Linked DNA regions of Homo sapiens: region 2 is linked to region 1. The links come from fine-mapping of genetic effects on gene expression. A gene starts in region 1. The other region holds a variant in brackets. All regions are shown on one strand. Distances are between the middles of the regions. Region 1 holds the start of TRIM69 (tripartite motif containing 69). Region 2 has its middle 64 kb from the start of TRIM69.

Region 1 (4,000 bases):
TATACTAAGCATTGTCAAATGTTTTAGCCAACAACAAAAACAATCAAGATGAAACAAAATTACTTTTTTGACTAAGTGATCACCAGCATTTCATAGACATTTATCTGACAAAGGTTTTGATCTAACAAATGCCATGTATTGCCAAGGTGAGCAAGATACAGTACTACCTATCCTGTGGTTTGTTCACAACTTAGTGGAGGGGCAGACATGCAATCAAACAATTAGAATACACTCTGTTAAAGCCACGTGTACAAAGATCTAGGGTGCTATAGAAATGTGTAAAACTAGGCCAGGCGTGGTGTTGCTCACACCTGTAATCCTAGCACTTTGTGAGGCTGAGGTGGGAGGACAGCTTGAGCTCAGAAATTTGAGATCAGCCTAGGCAACATAGTGAGACCCTGTCAGAAAGAAAAGAAAAAAGAAAAGAAAAGAAGGAAAGAAAGAGAAAGAGAAAGAAAGGGAGAAAGAAAGAAAGAGAGCAAGAGAGAAAGAAAGAGGAAAAAGAAAGGAAGAAAGAGAAAGAAACAGAGAGAGAAAGAAAGGGAGAAAGAAAACAGAAAGAGAGAGAAAGAAAGAAAGAGAAAGAAAAAAAGAAAGAGGAAAGAAGGAAGGAAGGAAGGAAGGAAGGAAAGAAGGAAGGAAGGAAGGAAGGAAGGAAGGAAGGAAGGAAGGGAGTAAAGCTGTGTTTCTCAACTGGGGAGTGATTCCAACCCCTGCCCCCAGGAGACATTTGGCAATGACTGGAGACATTTTTGTTATGACTGGGTTTGGTGGGGGGGGGGTGGCTACAGGCATCTAGTGTGTAAACGCCAGGGACACTGCTAAATATCCTAAAATTCACAGGACAGCCCCTCTAACGTAAGACTTAGCAGGCCCAAAATATCAATAGGGCTGAGGTTGGTAACCTCTGGTATAGAGCCAGCAAAATATCTTCTACAAGAGACAGGGAAGTGGGTAAAGCTTGGTTTGGGGATGAGGGGGTGGTTAGGGAAGAGTTTAGTAAAGAGATAATGACGGGGGTGTGGGGGAAGGGAAACTCCCATCCGAAGGGACAACATATACAAAGCTGCAGAAGCGTGACATATTTGGGCGATCCCAAACACTGGGGAAAGAGCTGTGGTCATTAAGTCTGGACAGCTAGGCAGGAGCTAGACGTGCAAGAAATCATATTGAGTTAGAGGAACTACTGTAAGAAAAACTGTTTGGCTCTGTGGTGGCTCTTTATAAGTCACTCAGGAGCACAGTGTTGGTACATCTCTCTGCGAGCTAAAACTGCTGAAGAAAGCTGTATGAAATGAAGCTTTTTTCATCCTGCTTTCTTAGGGCCTGGTGTTTCCCAGGCCTGTGTTACTGTCTCAGAGATAAAATCAGGGCTGCTTCATTGGAATATGAGAGGTGAACTAGCTCTCTATTAAAGCCACTCAGCTGGTGTCTTGATGGTGTGATGGGATCATGAACAGGGGTGAGGTGGTTATTTTTCATGAGTTAGGCTTAATATAGGCTGCTGCTGACGTGTATTTCCTCTTTCATAGAGCATCCTTAGTCCAGAAATGGGGAGCTATGAACCTTAAGATTAGACCACTAACTCGAATCTAAATGAGCTGCCCTTGTCTCCTACAAAAGAAAAGTTGGGCAGGTAGGGTATTCTAATGAGGGTTTCTCTTTCTCTTAAGCAAATGATGATCAAAGTTAACTGACAAACTGTCACGGAATCTGCCAGACCTCACTCTGGCCTTGCTGCTTCTCTCCAGCTCCTGAACTTTTCTTTCTTCCATCATGCTCTGAGCCCATTCCTTGAAAACTAAAAGGTCCCTGACTCCCAGTCTGCAGCCATCCTGGGCCTGCTGAGCTCTGATTCAAGTGCCTGCCTCTGCCCCTTGGTGGGCTGAAGCTTCATGGAGGTGAGTGACCCTTTTTTTTTTTAACTTAGCAGGGCTTCTAGGAATAGTGTGGAAAACAGGATCATAGAAGAGGATATGGATTTAGGAGCACAAAAGGAAATTCATGAAGGGAAGTATTTAACTTGTGACAGCTGGTAGCTACTATACTCTCTCCAAGCCTTGGAATAACTGATAATTTATACTAGAGAAGCTGGTAGGAAAGTAATGAAATCCACCAAAACATTTTGAGAAAAAATAAACTATATACTATATACAATTTACTTTCATTATCAATGTAATCATTTTATTTTAGATTTAAAAATTATTATGTATAACTTGGTTTGCTTACAATACCTTCACATTTGATTATTTTATATTTAAGGCAGAGTTGATACTTAGATAGTAAACATTTTTAATTGAATTCTTCCTTTAAGACCTCTTCAGAGCTAAAATAAAGGAAGTTATGTTCTTCTGAACTTAGTGTTTTCCTGATTGTCAAACAAAAGAAAATGGTTATTTACTACATGAAAGCTTGAAAAACTCACTAAGGGTTTTTCAGGGGCCCTTGAATCCTGAGTTATCATCCATTTCCACTAGTTTCCACTTCTTATAAAGTTTAATTTCATTATATTAATCATTAAGATCAGTTTCTAATTTCCTCTATCATAGGACCTTTAGGTTTGCTGCTACTCATCTCTGTGCTTAGCTATTGAAGCAAACAGGGCTATAAGCATTTTGTTTATAATTTCTAGGGCAAAAATAAACACTATTGCCTAAACCTACTATATTCTTATTACTTTAAGGCCAAGTCAGTGAAAATAGACACTTTTCCATAATAGTAAAAAAATTGTTTGTGTGATAGTGAGTTTCCCATTACTTCAGATGTTCAGGCAGAGGTTGGAAAGGAGTGAATTAAATGGCTTAAAATTTCTTTCAACTCTGGGAAGCTCCAAGAAGTCAGAAAGTTCAGAATCTTGCCTTCTTATGTGCAAATGGCTTGACTCGTGAAGCAGGAGTGTGTCTTGCTCTTAGGTTTAAGCTGGCTGTGCTATATAGTTTGTCTCTGTGGATGAACTGTATTTTTCTGCTCTCAAAGTTAATTCTTCATAAAAACTGCCCATCAAAGTTTAAAAATTACTTTGAAGGAATAAAGGTTGAAAAGCAACAAATGAACTCTCCTTAGATATCTTAACTATGATTTCAAAAATTTACAACACAAAACTTCTCAGGAAAAAAAAATCTCTGGTAAAAATTAAGGATTTCTTATGCAAGCTTCCATGGACTTCATAGCTCTTTGCCTTTTCTCTGCTCTTTGAGAATGTGCACAGTGAACTGAAGGAGGAAGATACATACTTTCTTTCTTTCTTTTTTTTTTTTTTTTTTTTTTAGGACAGAGTCTCACTCTCTTGCTCAGGCTGGAGTGCAGTGGCACCATCTCAGCTCACTGCAACCTCCGCTTCCAGGGTTCAAGTGATTCTCATGCCTCAGCATCCCAAATAGCTGGGACTGCAGGGACGCACCACCACGCCTGGCTAATTTTTGTATTATTATTTTTTTTTTTAGTAGAGATGAGGTCTCACCATGTTACCCAGGCTTGTCTCCAACTCCTGACCTCAGGTGATCCTCCTGCCTCAGCCTCCCAAAGTGAGGCTAAGATTACAGGCCTGGGCCATCGTGACCTGCTGATGTGCTTTCTTATAAAGTGATTCCTGCCAGCCAGGGCTTTATAAGGATGAATATCAATTCCTGACTCGAGTTTCTCTCTCTCTGCCTTAAGGTTAGACTTCTTCCCCTAAAAGGGGCTGGCAGTAGATGTGTTTCCTAAAAGATTTCCAGGTCCAGAAATTTTAGACTCTCATTTGGTTTCCAATTCTATAGCTCCCTCTAGAGCAGTAGGAAGTTATTGCAGATATTTTGCTTCACAAATTTGATCCATTTAATAAATTCAATTCCACAAAACATATTGATGGGCTCTCTGCTGACTCAGTGGTTAATAGGCTTTGGGGTCAAATAAAGAGTTCAAATCTGAGACCCACTACTTAATAATTGTGACTCTGGGAAGATACTTGAAGCAATCTGAGCTTCAGTTTCCTTAAAATATGTAGTAATAATACGTATTT
Region 2 (4,532 bases), 64 kb after region 1:
TTCATTTCCTTATATTAAATGACAATAAAAACAAAATCTACCTCATAGGGTTATTTTAAGGAGGCAACACAGTATAGATGCTTAAAAGTTTCCAGCACACAAGCATGTAATAAATGCTATTACTGCTTTAACTAGTATTATTATTAGTTGACTCTAGATTCAAACTAAATTTTTTAGAGATTTCTACTCCATTTTGGCCTCAAGAAAAACTGAATATAATAAATAATGAAAACTGAATTGGCCTGGGAATACAAAGATATTTTTTCTGGGTTTATTTTCACTTCCACACTGGGAGCTTTATTGATAACTTTAGAGATAAACATTTATGTGGAAGTAAATACACAACACAAGCCCAGAAAGGTACACACTGTAACTTTTTTATAACAGAAAGGAATTGTTGGGGATAATGTATTTCTCTCATGCTTCTGAGTCAAAAACCAAGCAAACTGAAATAGCCCAACACCATCATGATCGATTCCTTGTTTTTATTTCATTTTACTCTTTGCAATATGTTTTCATATTTAGTCATATCTCTTTTGATCCTCAAAGTGAGCCAAATAAGAGGACAGGACAGGTAGTTATTATCAATGATAAAGTGAAGAGTTGAGTGAAGTGACTACTCAGGGCCACCCAGTTGGCAAGTGACTGAGCTGGATTCAAAACCAGCTGTCATCCTTTTTCCTCACACTACACACATTGCCCTAAGTCAGACTTCCACACTGGAACTGTTTAATCTGTTAAAAAAAAAAAAAAGAAAAGAAAAAGAAAAGAAAAAGCTGATTCTGCAGTGACCACTGAGACATCTAAACAGAAGCCTCACCTTACCCCCCCTCAGGAGACAGGGCCATTGGACGGTCAGAGTGCCCCTTTCCTGTTGTTTCTTGTGCATCTGGATTCAGCACACAGCCCTGTCATCCCCCAGCTGTCCACTAAGCACCGCCATCAGCAATAAAGGAGTTACCACTTAATCTCTGGTACTTAAAATGGGAAATTGAAGCATATAATCACAGGATTAGAAACAGCTGAATCTAGGGACGCTGAAAAACCCTTTAGAACAAGTTGCCAAATAGTTTTGCTCTTTGCCAAAATATCTTTTCTCTTTATTTAACCCTTTCTGAGTTATAAGAGAAATGCAATTACAACCATGATATTCTCTACTAAAATGAACAGCTTCTGCTGTCTAAGAAAAAAAGGAAAGATTCAAAAATATACCTGTGACTATAATAGCTCTTGGGAGGAGGAAAAGCCCTCTTGAGTCATCCAGAGTCAGGCCACTTGGAAATTGACTATACATGTAGGTTGGGAACTAGGCTGGTTATTAAGCTACTGTATCTTAGCACCACCCACTCACCTGTTACTCTGTTACATGATTTTGAGGCTGGACTCCACAAATAAAATTTATCCTTTGCCATCTGGTTTCCTGTTAGGCTCTGCCAATAAAGGGTATTAGAGGAAGACTGCAAACCTAGAGGATGGCAAAGGGATTTGCCCCTTGCTCTTTGCTTTCTGTGTCTGTCAACATCCCCTCAGCAATAGTTCTTCACCCTAGCAGCAGCATTTGGGTCTAGGTCTTTTTTTTTTTTTTTCTAATTTCCAGAATCAGCCTCATTGGAGTCCCTGCAGAGACACCAGCACCAGCCAGGTGGCACCTCCTGCTCCGTGGTCTTGTTCTCAACTTTATGGGGCTCTTCATCCAAGCTTCTAGGTTCAACTAATCCACTCTACCCTTTGCTCCCCTGTTCTAACGGTGGAAGATATTTCCTGTAGTTTGCATATCTTTCTGGAGTTATAGTTTTCTAAATACCTGTTTAGCAATTCGATTCCCTATATTAAATTATCCCTGTTAAAATAACTGGAATGGTTTCTGTTTTCCTGATTGGACCTTGATGGATACAGGATCTAACTTTATTTGTATTTCAGATATAGGTTGGAATGGTCACTTTCCCAAAACTTTTATTAATTTATTAATCCAAGAGAACATATGATATGTCTGGCATTCTGCTGAGGACTGGGAAAAGAAATATAAGTGTCTTCTACTAATTTAGTCCAACAAACCATGAGAATACCCAGATAAACCCTATGCAATCTGAAGTGCTAAAAGAGATATATAAAAATTGCTGTGGATTTTTTAAAAAGAAAGGAGTATGCTATAACAAAAGTATCTTAGAAAAAAAATTTTTTTGAAACAAAAAAATGGGCTGGGTGCGGTGACTTACGCCTGTAATCCCAGCACTTTGGGAGGCCAAGGCAGGTGGATCACAAGGTCAGGAGATCGAGACCATCCTGACTAACATGGTAAAACCTCGCCTCTACTAAAAAATACAAAAAATTAGCTGGGCGTGGTGGCGGGCGCCTGTAGTCCCAGCTACTCGGGAGGCTGAGGCGGGAGAATGGCGTGAACCCGGGAGGCGGAGCTTGCAGCGAGCCGAGATTGTGCCACTGCACTGCAGCCTGGGCGACAGAGCGAGATTCCATCTAAAAAAA[T/A]AATAATAATAATAATAAAATAAATAAATAAAAAAGGAACAATTAATTTTGTTAAGGAGGATTCAAAGACAGATAAATAAAAGAACCATACTGAAAAGATTGAAAATGAAGGTTTTAACATAGACACAGGGAAGGGAACAACACACACTGGGGCCTGTGGGGGAGAGGGAAGGGGGAGAGAGAGCATTAGGAAAAATAGCTAATATATGTTGGGTTTAATACGTAGGTGATGGGTTGATAGGTGCAGCAGACCACCATGGTCCACGTTTACCTATGTCACAAAACTGCACATCCTGCACATGTACCCTGGAACTTAAAATTTTAAAAAAGAGAGAGAGAATAAAAGAAAAATAAAAAAAGAAAAGAAAATGAAGGTTTTAAAGGGCCACGTGAATTTACTGTTTTTTCATTCTCCGCAAATTATCACAAGGACAAAAAAACCAAACACCGCATGTTTTCACTCATAGGTGGGAATTGAACAATCAGAACACATGGACACAGGAAGGGGAACATCACACACCGGGGCCCGTTGTGGGATGGGGGGAGTGGGGAGGGATAGATAGCATTAAGAGATACACCTAATGCTAAATGACGAGTTAATGGGTGCAGCACACCAACATGGCACATGTATACATATGTAACAAACCTGCACGTTGTGCACATGTACCCTAAAACCTGAAGTATAATTAAAAAACAAGACAAAACTGTAGTTGTTTTTAGTTTAAAATAGTTTAAAAACAACTATTAGCACTCTCAATTTTCATTAATTATATCCATAACTTAAAAACTATTAAACCAATCTGGCCTGTTGAATCTCTGCGTAATTCTTCCAGCCATTCAGATTACATTAATTTGTAATATACCACCTTCCACAGGAGTTGTATTTCATATTTCATAACCCTCCCCCACAAACACGCACACAAATGGTAAATTTGTTAACTCTCTTTTCAAGGAACACACACTCTTACAACATGGATTACGCAACTATAGAGCAAGCCCATGAAACCTAAAGTACATTCCATGATACGTTACTTCACTGGGGGCATTAGTAGGTAGTCCATGAATGAAGGGTACAATATATAAATAACTTTGAGAAATGCTGGACTGAGCAGACAGATTTACTTGCTGCAGGAATTTTCAAAGCTTTTAATATCCTAATATGTTTGTGAATCCCAAAGACAACGTTACAAATTGCAGCCAGCTCTCCAGATCACATTTGCTTCATCTTTCACTTATCCATCATATCCAATCAGATATTTAAGTTCCCTCTAGTTTCTTCCTCCTCCTTCCTTCTTCCCCACTGTGACCATCCAAGACTTTGTCCTGGTCTTTTTTATCTACCACCCTCCTACCTGACCACCTTGCCTTACTGCTCATCCCCCAGGTCAGTCTTCCACAACAGTCAGACTTCCACTGCAATCAGAAAACTGCAGCCCACAGACCAATGCCAAACAGTTTATTCATAGACCAATGCCTGTTTATTCATAGTTGATAAGCTAAGAATAGTTTTACATGGTTATGTTTTAAACAGTTATATAAGCACCTACATAATATCATTTTGTGTCTTTTGCAAAGCCTAAAGTATGTACTATCTGGCCCTTTTAGAGAAAGTTGCTGACTCCTGCTTGACACCCCTGTCAGATGCATTTATCCTAAATCACCTGTACTTTTTATGGTTTCTTATCACAAGTTATAATGGCTCCTGCTTGTTTAGCCTCAATGACAGAAAACCATGAACAAGGAAAACCCTCTCACCAAGCAGGGAAGTGGGGTCCTTCTTTTAGGTTTTGGCAAAGAGAAAAATTGTTGTCATCTGCTGACTCCAGTGCAAAATCAGGGAACACTAGAAGTATAGAAAGTCCCTTTCTGGGGATACAAAAATGTGCATGCACCAGAGAGTGGTAAACAGAAAGAATGACCAATTTTGTCAAAGCAGAATTACCAAACAGGAAGCAGAAGGTACAGGCAGTGATGCACTGACAAATGTCTCACAACTGGCTTTCCACTGAGATGCAGGAAAGATTTTAATTAGAGGTGAGAAGCCTTGA

Evidence for each region.
Region 2: its variant is fine-mapped to the expression of TRIM69 in whole blood (INTERVAL, PIP above 0.99).

Annotation. Positions count from the first base shown.
Region 1 is chr15:44,734,810-44,738,809 of GRCh38, forward strand. TRIM69 (tripartite motif containing 69) reads left to right here and starts at 1,719. Exons shown (of 7, transcript NM_182985.5): 1 at 1,719-1,901. The coding sequence starts at 1,896.
Region 2 is chr15:44,798,096-44,802,627 of GRCh38, forward strand. No RefSeq gene overlaps it. Among named protein-coding and RNA genes, the nearest start is that of TRIM69, 64 kb to the left of the region's middle. The variant T/A (reference allele first, on the strand shown) is at 2,485.